4 linked regions of the Homo sapiens genome follow. The protein of the gene in region 2 interacts with the protein of the main gene of each other region in a biochemical or structural test. Each region holds a gene or a part of one and is shown on either strand. Other genes may lie near its edges.

Region 1 (3,500 bases), on a different chromosome or scaffold from region 2:
GCCCAAGCACCCACATACAGCCCCCAGTGCCCTCCAGACCTGCCAACCTTTGCACAGCTCGCATTGTCTTACACTTGAGGCTCAGCCTCACACCAGCCCTTCCAATCCCCTGCACACTCCTGACTCTTTCTTACCTCTGTGCTTCTGCTCAAGCTCTTCTGTGGCCCAGAATGCCCTCCCCCTCTTCCTCATTCTTCCACTCAGCTCAAGTGGTCCTTCCTCCAGGAAGCCCTCCTCACCCACCCCAGGCTGGGTTAGACACCTGTCCTTTATGCTCCCAAAATGCATAGTGTATCCACCTCTATCACTGTCATTACCAAATTGTCCTATAATTTTCTCTTTTAGTCAATCTCTCCCCAACCTGATACATGGCAGGTGACCTTAGAAAGACATACACACAAAACGCCCAAAGGCAGAAGGACAGGCAAGATGAATTCTAGAGATTCTCCAACATGTGCATGCTAGCCCGCACCAATCACACACTCCACAAGCTGGCAGTCAACAAACATCCACCCACGCACTCACCAGACAGGTGTGGGGGCAGCCCCCTCTACCTGCAGCCACTCAGGTCATCACCTGGGCATGATTTTCTTCTACAATCCCCTTCAGGGGGGCCTCTTGTGCCACATGTCCCATTCCCAAAGCCCTCTGTAGCTAATACCCCATCCCCTACTGTGCCTCCCCAAGCACAGTGCCCTTGTGCCCACCTCCCTGGAGCACTGTACCTTGGCCAGGGATCTTACTATGGGACTTTCCATAATGCCTCGAAGGAAGATCAGGTCCAGCTCTGCAGCCCCCGTGGCACTGGGGAGGGATCCCAAGTTGTCCAGGACTTGCTGCATGGCTGGGGGAAGGTACGGGCAGTGAGATACACAGGTACCAGCTGGGTACAGAAGACCAAAACACACCACAATACTTGCCACTTCCCCACCCCCATGTCCCACAGAAGGCAGCCCCTCCCCGGCAACATTCCCCTCCCTGCCCAGCACAGGCACCCCAGGCCCTTGAATGCCTGGGACAGGGATCCTGGAGGAAGGGGACAATTTCCTTGGCCTGTTCTCTCCACCCTAGGTAATGCCAGCCTGAGCAGGTGGGAGGCTCCAGGCAGCTGGAAGAGACTCTGAGGTGGAGAGAAGGGAGAAAGGGAAGCAGGTGTCAGGTTGCAGATCCTGCCCTGCACCAGAAAACCACAAGCTGTTGGGTGGATCACTTGAGGCCAGGAGTTCAAGACCAGCCTGGGCAACAAGGCAAAACCCCATCTCTACTAAAAATACCAAAATTAGCCAGGCATAGTGGTGTAGGTCTGTAATTCTAGCTACTCAGGAGGCTGAGGCAGGAGAACTGCTTGAACCTGTGAGGCAGAGATTGCAGTGAGCTGAGATCACGCCACTGCACTCCAGCCTGGGTGGCAGAGCAAGACTGTCTCTGGCCGGGCGCGGTGGCTCACGCCTGTAATCCCAGCACTTTGGGAGGCCGAAGCGGGTGGATTGCCTGAGGTCAAGAGTTCAAGACCAGCCTGGCCAACACAGGGAAACCCTGTCTCTACTAAAAATACAAAAAATTAGCTGGGCGTAGTGGCAGGCGCCTGTAATCCCAGCTACTCGGGAGGCTGAGGCAGGAAAATCGCTTGAACCCAGGAGGCGGAGGTTGCAGTAAGCTGAGATCCTGCCATTGCCCTCCATCCTGGGCGACAGAGCAAGACTCCGTCTCAAAAAAAAAAAAAAGAAAAAGAAAAGAAAACCACAAGCTCCTCACTCAACCTCTAGATGGGCTGAAGCCCAGGGCTCAGCCACCTGTACCTGGCAGGCTCAAGGATGAGACAGACAGTACTCGGAGCAAGTCCGTGAGTACAGGCCCAGAGTCAAGCAGGCAGCCACACAGGAGCCAGGGCCTGCAGCCTCCAGTCTAAGCACCACTAATTCAGTGTGACATTGTACAAGTCACTGTCCCTCACTGGCCTCAGTCTTTCCTGCCTGTAAAATGGATGGATTGGGCTAGATGATGTTTACAGGCCTTCAGCTCTGAGTGACAATGATCTATAATCACTGAGAAATTAACATGGATGATAGGAAGTCAAAGCTGAGGCCTGGAACGCTGGCAGGAGCTAGGGAAACAGGCACTGGAGGCCTTGGTGTGACCCAAAGGCTGAGGTCACACCAAGTCATCACAGGGATAAGCAAACTCTCAGCCCGAAATGGGACATAATGGAGGACACGATAACACCTGCAGCTGGGCCGCAACAATGCCCCCGAGACCTGAGGTGAGGGCTGCCTTCACTCACTGACAGAGGTGGGAGTTCCAGGCTGTGGCAAGTTCCGGGGAAAGGAAGCGAGAAGCAGAATGTGCCCAGCTGGGGGCAGAGATGGGCGAAGGGTATCATTACTCTGCCACCATGCCGCCCATGCCTACATCTGCATAACAGTACCCAAGCCACGGAGGACGGCGGAGGATGCACCCCTGGCGCCTCTCAATGCTCTTGTCAGTGCCCCCCTCCTCCAGGAAGGAACAGGAGTGGGGAGGAGGGGGCACTGGAACTGGAGCTGGCAGAGATGGTTCAGGGACTCCTGGACTCCCATCTCCTTCCTCCTCCTGCTCCCTGCCTTCTCCAGAAAAAAAAGTGCAAGCTTGCCCTTCAGACCCCTCTTGCCCAGGCCGGGGCTTGGCATTGGTCAGAGACCTGCGAGGCCCTCAGTGGGCTCTGAAAGAGGCCAGGGCAGGGACCCTTCCCTTCCTGCCAGGGTATGCCAGATTCCCTCCGTTATCTAGGGGAGGACTGAGCCAAGGGAGTTGGTGCCCTCTGCCCAGGACAGCTCTCCTGAAGGTGCCCTCAGATGACCTCTCCCAGGCCACCCTCCCCAGATGCCCCGACTCTGCTGGAGGAAGGTAGGCTAAGGGGCCAGCTGCCCCGCCCCCATCTGGCCCGCCCTTCCCTACCTTCCCTCTGGAGCTCCGCTTCCTCAGAAGACTCCAGGGATATACCCTCCAAGGAGACCCCGCTGCCTGGGCTGCCTGCCATGGCGGCCCCCAGACCCGGGGACTCCCGGAGCGTCCTACACGCCGCCGTCTACCGCCTCCCCAGCCAAAGCCTGGCCGGGCTGGGGAAGGCGGGAGTCGAGGAGCGCCCTCTGAGGAACCAGCCAATGGGAAGGCTCAGCCGCCGTGACCGCCTTGCTGATTGGCTAAAGCCCTGACTGGCGCTGCGCGGTGCAGAGCAGGCGGTAACCCGGGTGGGAGAAGAGTGGTGGGAGGGAGCCCTAGTCCCACAGATTGCCCGATCCCCAGCATGTCAGTGTCGGTGGGGATGGGGAGGAGGCGGCTAACAGGAAGTTTTGAGGAGGGGGTAGGCATGCTGCCCCTTCAAGACTGGCGCGGTACTCCGAGACCCTCCCCTCACAGCCAGCTTCAGGAGACCCGAGGGAGAAAAGTCTTGGCCCATCTTGTCCCTGTACCCTCTTTTCTAGAAGCCCCTCCTCTAATACACCCCATGCCACCTCCTCCCT
Region 2 (3,500 bases):
CCTTGCCTGACCCATTTATCTTTAAAAAAATATTTTTAAGCTGTCAGTTGCATACAGATGTTCAACTAACAGCATTACACTTACCGTATATATCCAGCCTGGCAGTGCACGACACGATGCCGGCTTCATTCTTGGCTGACAACGTGTACCATCCAGCGTCTGATTTCTTGGCTGGCTGAATGAGAAGGCAGGCATACCCTGTTGTGTCCTGGTGCATACTGGAGAAAAAGAGAGAATATACCTATATTTTATCGGGGGGCAGAAATGCCTTTGTCAAATTTAGGGTTCCAGGAAGAAGGGGGAACTCAGCTTAAGGCAGACATCAAGACAAATTTGAAGGTGGAAGACGTCAAAGAAGAGCAGCAGTGAGCTTAATCATGCTAGGAGGAGGGGGCAGCTGGGGCTGAGACCTGCTGTTGCCCTCCCCACTGCTGCAAGTCCACTGAAGTTGCGCTCCCCACCAGCAGAACCCCCAATTTTCACAACCAAAGTTCAGAAAGATCTCTTTTCCAAACAAGGTTGGACATTTCATCGATAACTTTGTTAGGATGCTCTGGGATGAACAGGGAAAGCAAGACAAAATAGAGCCAGGGGGTGGATGAACTGGCAGCATAGACGGCATTTCCTAATGTAACCAGCTGGGCTCGTGCAGCTTCCAGCTTCACGAGGTTTAGGAGGAAATCAGCCTGCTGTTTCCTTCTGTTTTTCTCCACATCCATAGTTTTTCACCTTGACTGCATATTGGAATCCCAGGCCATATCCCAGGTAATTATATCAGAATCAAAGGCTGGGATCCAAGCATTAGGATTTTTGGAAACTCCCCAGTAATTGCAATATGCAGCCATGGATCAAAAACCATAGGGCCACATGTTCCCTACACCCCTTGTTGGCCTGGCCCTCTTATCACTCATACTTCCAAGCTCTCCTCTGGGGCTGCCACAGCTCATTTGCACAGTAGGGGCAACAGCAACGGCTTCCTGAGCTCAAAGGATGAATAAGTGTTTACCTTTCATTGAAAGTTATTATGTCTAAGAATTTATAAAGTAATAAGAATAAAGAATAAATCAATCAATAACAAGTATAACAAGAATAAAGTAATAAAATATCCACCACAATTTCACTACACTAACACATTGGCTACCTTCACCTTCTGATTAGTCAATTAATTAATCCATTCATTCTTTGATATATTTCTTTAGTAAACACTTACGAATACTATGTTGGGGAAAATGCTAGGTGCTACTGCCTTGGGTGCTGAGGGTGTAAAGATGAACAGGACAAAAATTCCTTCTCTTTTTTTTGAGACAGAGTCTTGCTCTGTTGCCCAGGCTGGAATGCAGTGGTGTGATCTCGGCTCACTGCACCCTCCCCCTCCCAGGTTCAAGAGACTCTTGTGCCTCAGCTTTCCAAGTAGCTGGGATTACAGATGCCTGCCACCATGCCTGCCTAATTTTTCTTTTTTTTTTTTTTTGGTAGAAATAGGGTTTCACTGTGTTAGCTAGGCTGGTCTCGAACTCCTGATCTCAGGTGATCCACCCTCCTCAGCCTCCCAAAGTGCTGGGATTACGGGTGTGAGCCACCACACCTGGCCAAAGAAATTCCTTCTCTAGAAGGATCCCTAAGTTTAATGGAAAATAAATAAATAAAAGATAAATAAGTAGAAATAAAGATAAATAGAATGCAACAAATGCTAGAGTAATGTCGTGGGAAAGATGCCTGGGGAAGACAGAGGGGAAAAGGTTATTCTGGGAAGCCACAGGCATCAAGAAGGAGGCATGAAGATACTGGATGTTCAGAAGCACCAGCATATGTGAGGTTAGGCTCACAGAAAAATGTAACACTGTATAAAGACCTGAGACGACTAAGACGAGATTACTTTAAAAATCTATTTCTCAAGCACTGAAATATAATGTAGCCAATTCAAGGGTGGGAAAACTTCCCAGAAGATGTGCTCCAGCTCAGTCTCAAAGGTCGAGTGGAAACTCACAGGGATGGTGGGATGTGGCTGTTCCAGGTGGTGGAACAGCCTGCACAAAGGCGTGGTGGTGTGGGAGGGATCATGGCATATTCCTTACAGCTGGGGTTGGAGTGCACACGGGGTACTGGCAAGTGGGGGGACTAGGAAGAAGGCAGGGGAGAGGGTCACGTGCACTATGGTAAAGGGACGGGACCCTTCCTCTCAGATTATGGGAAACTAATGATATATTTTAAGCAGGAGTTGATATAATCAGTTTGTATTCTCTTTTTTTTTTTTTTTTTTTTGAGACAGAGTCTCAGAGTCTCACTCTGTGGCCCAGGCTGGAGTGCAGTGGTGTGATCTCAGCTCAGTGCAACCTCTGCCTCCCAGGTTCAAGTGATTCTCCTGCCTCAGCCTCCCAAGTAGCTGGGATTACAGGCACATGCCACCATGCCTGGCTAATTTTTGTATAGTAGAGACAGGGTTTTGCCATGTTGGCCAGGCTGGTCTCCAACTCCTGACCAAAGGTGATCCACCTGCCTTGGCCTCCCAAAGTGCTGGGATTACAGGCGTAAGCCACTGCGCCCGGTCAGTTTGCATTCTTAAAAGGTCATTCTCACAGTGGTGAGGAGGGGTATTGAATAGGGCTTGAGCCTGGCCGCAGAGAGACACATTAGGGTGCTATTGCTGTAGTTTAGTGAGGTGAGGCAATAGCCGTGGAAATTCATGCATTTGTTTGTAATTCCTTCATCTTACATAATATGCTACTAGGTGAAAGGCATTGGGTGTTGTGAAGAGTCAGGACATACGAAAACAAAGAAGACGTGGTCTCTTCCTTCAAGATGCTCACAGTCTAGTCGTGGGAGAGAGAATGAAACCATTAGTACTAACAATTGTGACTACGTGCAACAGTTGCTGGTAGAAGAACATCAACTCAGTCCTGGACCAAGCTGGGGAGGAAGCAGGGGCACTGCTCTTCCTTAGAAAGATGATGTTTGAGGTGAGTATTAAGGGATAACAGACATTAGGGAAGTGGGCTGCAGCGTGGAGGTAGAGAAGAAGGCGAAGAGAGTTCCCAAAGAAGGAATGTCCTGAGCAGAGGTATATAGGTGAGAGAAGGCAGGGACATGAAAACCATAAATACTTACAACACTTACAACACAGTTATAATCACAGTGATATACAGGCAGTTCCTGACTTAGGATGCTTGCATTCCACATGCTCCTCAATTTATGATGGGGTTACATCCAGGTAAGTCCATCGTAAGTTGAGGAGCAACTGTATCTCTCTCTCTCTCTCTCTCTCTCTCTGTGTGTGTATGTGTGTGTGTGTGTGTGTGTGCGTGCGCGTTTTAGGACCATTCAGATGTTCCTAGGTGTGTGGTTTTCAGAAGCTAATCACTATGAGTTTAAAGTATCAAAATATCCTATTCTTTTTTTCTTTTGAGACTGGGTTTTGCTTGTCCCCAGGCTGGAGTACAATGGCATGATCATGGCTCACTGCAGCCTTCAAATCCTGAGTTCAAGCAATCCTCCCTCCTCAG
Region 3 (3,500 bases), on a different chromosome or scaffold from region 2:
TGTACGTGAATGTGTGTAGTGTGCATACGTTGCTAACCCTAAATGAGCCTTGAGTACAGAAACTGCACTTTAATTCTGGGGCCCTCTGGATCGTCTCCTTCAGCTGGGATACCTGGAACCTATAGGGTTACACGTCACAAACCAAGAACAACATGTTCATCATTGACCTTATGGTGCAGAAAGTATCTCTTTATCCACTGAACTTAAATGTCAAAACTGATAAAGAAAAACTTTTGGAAGATATTTATGTGGGAACGCACATCCCCCATTGAATGGCTCATTATAGTTGGGCCTTGAACAACCCAGGGGTTAGGGGCGCCAACTCTCACGCAGTTGAAGATTCATGCATAACTTTTGACTCCCCTAAAACTTAACTACTAGTAGTCTATTGTTGATCAGAAGCTTTACTAATAACATGAACAGTCAATTAACACATATTCTGTATGTTATACGTATAATATACTACATTCTTAGAATAGAATAAGTGAATTCAGGCACAGTGGCTTACACCTGTAATCACAACTAATTGGGAGGCTGAGGCAGGGGCATCACTGGAGCCCAGGAATTTAAGACCAGCCTGGATGACACAGCAAGATCCTATCTCTAAATAAATAAATGAATTAAGAAAGTAAGCTAGAGAATAGAGAATGTTATTGAGAAAATCACAGGGAAGAGAAGATATACTTAGAGCACTGCACTGTATTTATTGACACCATAAGTTTACATCATCTGTTTATGAGATGAATGGTCTGAAATGGTGGCAACCACGCTGCAGACCTCAATCTGTGGTGCACAGCAAACAATTCAGCTTTTTGGCAATGCTGTGATATTCCCGCTTCTTGGGGCACTTGCAACATCCCTTGTGGCACTTCGTGTGGGTCCCGGGGTGTTATTCAAGGTTTACGTTACTGGACTCAACACGAAGGAGGGAAGGTACACAAGAACTCTGAGAGATCACTCGTTACCATGCTCTGCAATTTACTGGAGAGAGAAATTGCTTCCACAGGGATGATTAAGACATTTTACTCAGAAACCCATGTCACACTATGTGCTCCAGTTAACCATGGGCAGGAATGATTGAACGCTGCATCTTTACCTTTGTCTATATTCCTCTCCACTGCAGATGGTGCCAAATTGATTGATTTATATTTTACAGGAGTAAATGATGAAATAGACTAGTATCTACATATATTGTATGAATTCACGACATCTCTAACTTTTTCTTAATGTTTTGATATTTTTAAGCTACACAGTTTGTCTTAAGAGGTTTTTACAATTGTTAAATTGTTTTCAAAAAATTTTCCAACATACTTATAGAAAACAATTGGCATACAAATGAGCCCACGCAGTTCAAGCCCATATTGTTCAAAGGTCAATTGTGTTTCTTTCCTATCACTTGCTATATTTGGGCAGCTGTGTATTATAATAGAAGAACACCAGGTTTTGGAGTCAGATAAAATTTGAGGCCTTTCTTTGCCCAGTATTAGCTGTTTGATCTTGAGCAATTCACTCTCTCAGAGCCTCCACTTTTGAGCTGTGAAATGGAATCGTGATAAAAATGTTGTCATAACTTCACATGACAGAGTGGCCAGCATGCAGGGCTCACATCCCGGATTCACATGAGTTCACTACGTGCTTTCATAAAGACACACGTCCTAAGGCAATGCTGAGCCAGGCCGTACATGTCGATTTGATGTCTGCTTTGCAGCTACCTGGCTTCCTGGCAGGGTCAGCTCTGGCAATATCCAGAACAGCATTTCCAGCCACCCCCACGACTGAAGAAAGCCCACCCCCCACCTAGGACTGCAAGACATCATCTTATTATGTTCCCTTTCCTGAAAAAAACAAAAAGGGTTGTATTCTAAAATTACATATTTTTTCTATTTATATTTATTATGAAACAATTATAGCAACAATAAAGGGAATTTAAAAGATAAACTTATTACTATGTTTTGTCATCTGATTTTTAAAAATATGTCAATAATTATTAATATAACCTTAATAATAGGACAATAATTAATATTCTCTTTCATGCAATGTGAATTTGTACATATAACTGTATAAATTTATAGTAGAATTACTTAAAATATGTTGTAAGATTTTAAAATATTTCTCAATGGTCTTTTGATTATTCTTCAAATATCATTAATTTAAGGAATATCCTTAAACATTCTCATACATATAGCTCTTTGATTCCTCTGAACTCAGTGTTGTAATGGACTCTTCTTTAGATTCAATTCTGAGGAGTGAGACTGCTTGATCAAGCAAGGGATTGTTTTTCCACTGTTTAGCCTCACAAAGAATGTGTTGTAAGTTCTACAAAAGGAAAATTAATTATTCATATATAGCTCATTTCCCCAGATAGTTCCTGTAGCTCCTTTAAAAACAATCACTCAGACCTTGTGGATCGCAGTGTGTTGATACGACTGGAAACCCTGAGCACTGAAGTTCAAGGTCAGCGGCTTGCCGTCAACAGTCAGTCAGCGGCTGGCTAGGCCATCGGGTTTCCTCGTCTGGACCGAGCCTTCGGGTTTCGTCGTCTGGACCGAGCCTTCCGGTTACCTCGTCTGCACGGAGCCTTCGGGTTGCCTCGTCTGCACGGAGCCTTCCGGTTGCCTCGTCTGGACGGAGCCTTCCGGTTGCCTCGTCTGGACGGAGCCTTCCGGTTGCCTCGTCTGGACTGAGCCTTCCGGTTACTACGTCTGGACTGAGCCTTTGGGTTTCCTCGTCTGGACTGAGCCTTTGGGTTTCCTCGTCTGGACTGAGACTTGACCCGGCTTCTTCCCACCTCTGGGACCTGGAACTCCCTATCTTTAGAGCATTTGCTTTAGAAAATGTATTATTGTATGTTCTTTCTCTGCCATTTGATACCTGAATCTTTCTAGAAGTCTCTTGCTGGCTGTACAACCCAGGACTGTCTTTCTCAAGGAGCTGGGAGCTGTCCCTTCAAAATGTGATCACTGGCAAGATGGCGTCATCTCCTGTCCCTGTGGAAGGATGGAGCCCAGCCTTGGTGGGTGCTTGGCTCTAAGCTGTGCAACCACCTCCTGTCATGAAGATGGGGGAAGCTCTCTGTTTCTTTGCAGGAGGCCAATTAACAGACAATGATGGCCCTAATCTCCTTCCCATCCCAACTTGTAGAAACCCTCTCATCCTTTGTTTCAGTGGAGTTGAATCTCTGAATCTCTCTCTCTCTCCTATCATAATAGACTTGAATAAGGTCTTCTTGCCTTCTTCGCCTTTAACTCTGGTGCAGTTTTGTCCTGACATGGCTTTAGGAAAATCATTTAGGAATTCTTCCTCTCAGTGTTGATATTATCCAAACAGGACTACCCCGAAGATCCGTGGAGAACACGTTCTAGAACTCTTAACGGCCACTCGCGACAGGCTCCCGGAACACCACTGCTTCTAGCACGTGGAATAGAGCGGGATTCGGGATGAGCTTTGCAGCCACGTGAGTCTGGGCCCCATCCCTGTCTCTGCTTGGCTTCTGGAAAGTC
Region 4 (3,500 bases), on a different chromosome or scaffold from region 2:
GGGACTACAGGCATATGCAACCATGCCCAGCTAATTTTGTATTTTTTTTGTTAGAGATGGGGCCTCACTATGTTGCCAGGCTGGTCTCAAACTCCTGGGCTCCATTGATCCTCCTGCCTCGGCCTCCCAAAGTGCTGGGATTACAGGCACGACCCACGGTACCCAGGCTACTTTCTTGATCCACAGCTGAGGTGAGGGTCACAGGGCCATGGGAGGGACTGGGACAACCCTGACCCTGATGGAGCAGAGAAGCAGCTCCAGGGCTGAGCCTGGGGTGGAGGGAAACACCCAGACAGTAGATGACAGAGGCTGGAGCCCTACCTGTGGTGACTGCTGGGCTGGGGCCTGGAGGGGAAGCCCGGGATTTGGACACGGTCCCCATCTTCCCTTTGAAGCTGCTGTTCAGTCGAGACTCAAGCTCTGCATAGACGGCTGACATCTGGAGGGAGACGGGGGAGAGTCCAGCCCATTCTGCTTCCCCTCGTAGCCCTAATGTGGTCCAGGCCTGGGTGGGCCGGGAGGCAGGGATATGCCCCAGCCTGAAGCAGCACAGGGACGCCTTGGCCTGGGTCTCCTGGGCCCAGTCCTATGGACCGTCCATTCCCTGCCCCCTACTGACCCCACGTGGAGGGCAGAGAAGGTCTCACCATCTTGGGGTTGGGGGTCTCAGGGAGGGACGTGCCGTCGCCTGCCTGGCGCTCGCCTGGGATCAGGGGAAGAGGCATCTCAGGGCACTCGCTGGGACCTACCGGGGAATAATGTCATTACCGTATCTGAGCTCTACGGCTCAGGCCCCGGCCCAGAACCAACATGCCCCGCAGACCCAGGAGGGCCAATCCTGAGCCCTGCTTAGCCCCATTCCCTGGGATTCCCCACCTCACCAAGCCCATTTTGCAGGTGGGAAAACTGAGCTCCATTCATACCCTCCCCCTGACACCAGCCTTACCGCAGCTGAGGCCGGCCTCCAGGCCCTGGGACCGGAGGCTGCGGCGGCACATGGAGGAAGCCCGCAGGGAGCTCCGCGGCTGGGGCTCAGGCGTGGGCTCGGACTCCAGGTCCAGCTCAGGCTCCGGCTCTGCTGTGGGACATGCAGGGAACATGGGGCCCTCTTGCCCTCTCAGCCAGACAAGGGACCTCCAAAACAGGGAGGGGAGGGCAGATGTCATCTGCACCAATATGCAGACCCCAAGCTACGGGGCCTGCCCTGCTTGCCTCCAGAACAGCTCTTGAGGGGAAGCCCCAGGGCAAGAAACCAGGTGCCAGGAGCAGCACCAGAATGCAGCACCAGAATGCAGCTAGCCTGAACTCAGGGGCCTAGCAGAGATCTCATGACAACAGCTTCCAGAGTCTCAACGCCCTGTGCTTGCCCCAGGCCAAGTCACTGCTGCCCAGAGAGGATTATGGGCAAAATAGAAGTGTTTTTTTTTTGAGACTGAGTTTTGCTCTTGTTGCCCAGGTGGGAGTGCAGTGGTGCAATCTCAGCTCACTGCAACCTCCACCTCCCAGGTTCAAGCGATTCTCCTGCCTCAGCCTCCCAAGTAGCTGGGATTACAGGTGTCCGTCACCATGCCTGGCTAATTTTTGTATTTTTAGTAGAGATATGGTTTCAACATGTGGGCTAGGCTGGTCTCAAGTTCCTGACCTCAGGTGATCCGCCTGCCTCGGCCTCCCAAAGTGCTGGGATTACAGGTGTGAGCCACTGCTCCCGGCCAAAATAGAAGTTTTTTGAGCCTACGCAGATATGTAAGGCATGTGTGGTCCAGCATGGATCCTGAGCTTCTCGCTAAAACCCTAGCAAATTGTGGGTCCCTGGGACTGCAGCTCATGGGCACACAAGGACCAGCAACTCTGCAGCGGCCCCTTCCCTTTCCTTCCTTTCCTTTCCTTCCTTCTCTTCCTTCTCTCACTTTCTCTCTTTCTCTCTTTTCTCTCTCTCTGTCTCTTTCTCTCTTTCTCTCTTTATTTATTCAGAGTCTGGCTTTCTCATCCAGGTTGGAGTGCAGTGGCACAATCTCAGCTCACTGCAACCTCCACCTCCCAGGTTCAAATGATTCTCGAGCCTCAGCTTCCCAAGTAGCTGGGACCACAGGCATGCACCACCATGCCTGGCTAAATTTTTGTATTTTTTTTTTTTAAGCAGAGATGGGGTTTCACCATATTGGACAGGCTGGTCTTCAACTCCTAACCTCAGGTGATCCACCTGCCTCAGCCTCTGAAAGTGCTGGGATTACAGATGTGAGCCACCACACCTGCCTTTTTTTCTTTTCTTCTTTTTTTTTTTTTTTTTTGTGACAGGTCTCACTCTGTCCCCCAGGCTGGAGTGCAATCAAGGCTCAGTGCAGCCTTGAATCCCAGGCTCAACAGATCCTCCTGCCTGAGCCTCCCCTGCAGCTGGGATTACAGGTGTGTGCCACCACACCCAGCTAATTTCAAATTTTTTTGCTATGTTGCCCAGGCTGGTCTCCAACTCCTGAGCTCAAGTGCTCCTCCCACCTCATCCTCCCAAGTAGCTGGGACTACAGGTGCATACCACCACGCCTGGCTAATTTTTTATTTTTTTTTTCTTTGAGATGGAGTCTCACCGTGTTGCCCAGGTTGGAGTGTAGTGGTGCGATCTCAGCTCACTGCAACCTCCGTCTCCCAGGTTCAAGCAATTCTCCTGCCTCAGCCTCCCGAGTAGTTGGAATTACAACTGCGTACCACCACACCTGGCTTATTTTTGTATTTTTAGTACAGATGAGGTTTCCCCATGTTGGCCAGGCTTGTCTCGAACTCCTGACCTCACGTGATTGGCCTGCCTCAGCTCCACAAAGTGCTGGGATTACAGACGTGAGTCACCGCGCACGGCCACCCCTGGCTGATTTTTAAATATTTTGAATATATGGGGGTCTTGTTGTGTTGCCCAAGCTGGACTTGGAACTCCTGACCTCAAGTGATCCACCCACCTCAGCCTACCAAAGTGCTGGGATTACAAGAGTGAACCACTGCACCTGCAGCGGCTTTCATAGCAGGTGCAGGATGCCTAGAACAGGGTAGAACACAGGCTTCGGCACACCTTCCATCCACATGACCTGCATGCTGAGTGCAGGGGTTTGTGGGCATTCGGAGGGCACGCTGAACAGACAGGTGGCAGCCACACATGGCACTGCAGGCCTGTGTGTGTGCAAGAAAGAGTACACTGGGAGCCCACCAGCCAGGTGGGATGTGGTCGTGTGCTCATGATCCTGGTGGTGGTGTTGGCATGTCTGGCAACCACGTGAGTTTCTTTCTTTTTTCTTTTTTTCTTTCCTTTTTTTTTTTCTGGAGGCAGTAGCTTGATCATAGCTCACTGCAGCCTTGATCTCCTGCACTCAAGCCATCTTCCCACCTCAGCCTCCTAAGTAGCCGGGACTACAGGTGTGCATCACACCTGGCTAAATTAAAACTTTTTTTTTTTTTGGTAGAGACAGGCTCTTGCTATGTTGCCCAGGCTAATCTTGAGCTCCTGAGCTCAAGTGATG

Evidence for each region. Proteins that work in one complex are often made in the same cells at the same time.
Region 1: the proteins of MYPN (region 2) and MPP2 interact in a test that uses a peptide from one of them, tested with the Homo sapiens proteins (one large-scale study listed by IntAct).
Region 3: the proteins of MYPN (region 2) and SNTG2 interact in a test that uses a peptide from one of them, tested with the Homo sapiens proteins (one large-scale study listed by IntAct).
Region 4: the proteins of MYPN (region 2) and GRID2IP interact in a test that uses a peptide from one of them, tested with the Homo sapiens proteins (one large-scale study listed by IntAct).

What each region holds. Positions count from the first base shown.
Region 1 is NC_000017.11:43,897,537-43,901,036, forward strand, and holds part of MPP2 (MAGUK p55 subfamily member 2), read right to left. Parts: intron 3,089-3,500; exon of another isoform or gene 3,017-3,088; coding exon of another isoform or gene 2,935-3,016; intron 845-2,934; coding exon 726-844; intron 1-725. UniProt on the Homo sapiens protein: Postsynaptic MAGUK scaffold protein that links CADM1 cell adhesion molecules to core components of the postsynaptic density. In CA1 pyramidal neurons, required for synaptic KCNN2-containing channel function and long-term potentiation expression.
Region 2 is NC_000010.11:68,203,488-68,206,987, reverse strand, and holds part of MYPN (myopalladin), read right to left. Parts: intron 2,944-3,500; exon of another isoform or gene 2,729-2,943; intron 219-2,728; coding exon 85-218; intron 1-84. UniProt on the Homo sapiens protein: Component of the sarcomere that tethers together nebulin (skeletal muscle) and nebulette (cardiac muscle) to alpha-actinin, at the Z lines.
Region 3 is NC_000002.12:1,261,849-1,265,348, reverse strand, and holds part of SNTG2 (gamma-2-syntrophin), read right to left. Parts: intron 3,455-3,500; exon of another isoform or gene 3,328-3,454; intron 3,014-3,327; exon of another isoform or gene 2,931-3,013; intron 1-2,930. UniProt on the Homo sapiens protein: Adapter protein that binds to and probably organizes the subcellular localization of a variety of proteins. May link various receptors to the actin cytoskeleton and the dystrophin glycoprotein complex.
Region 4 is NC_000007.14:6,509,962-6,513,461, forward strand, and holds part of GRID2IP (delphilin), read right to left. Parts: intron 1,079-3,500; coding exon 947-1,078; intron 746-946; coding exon 648-745; intron 440-647; coding exon 322-439; intron 192-321; exon of another isoform or gene 55-191; intron 1-54.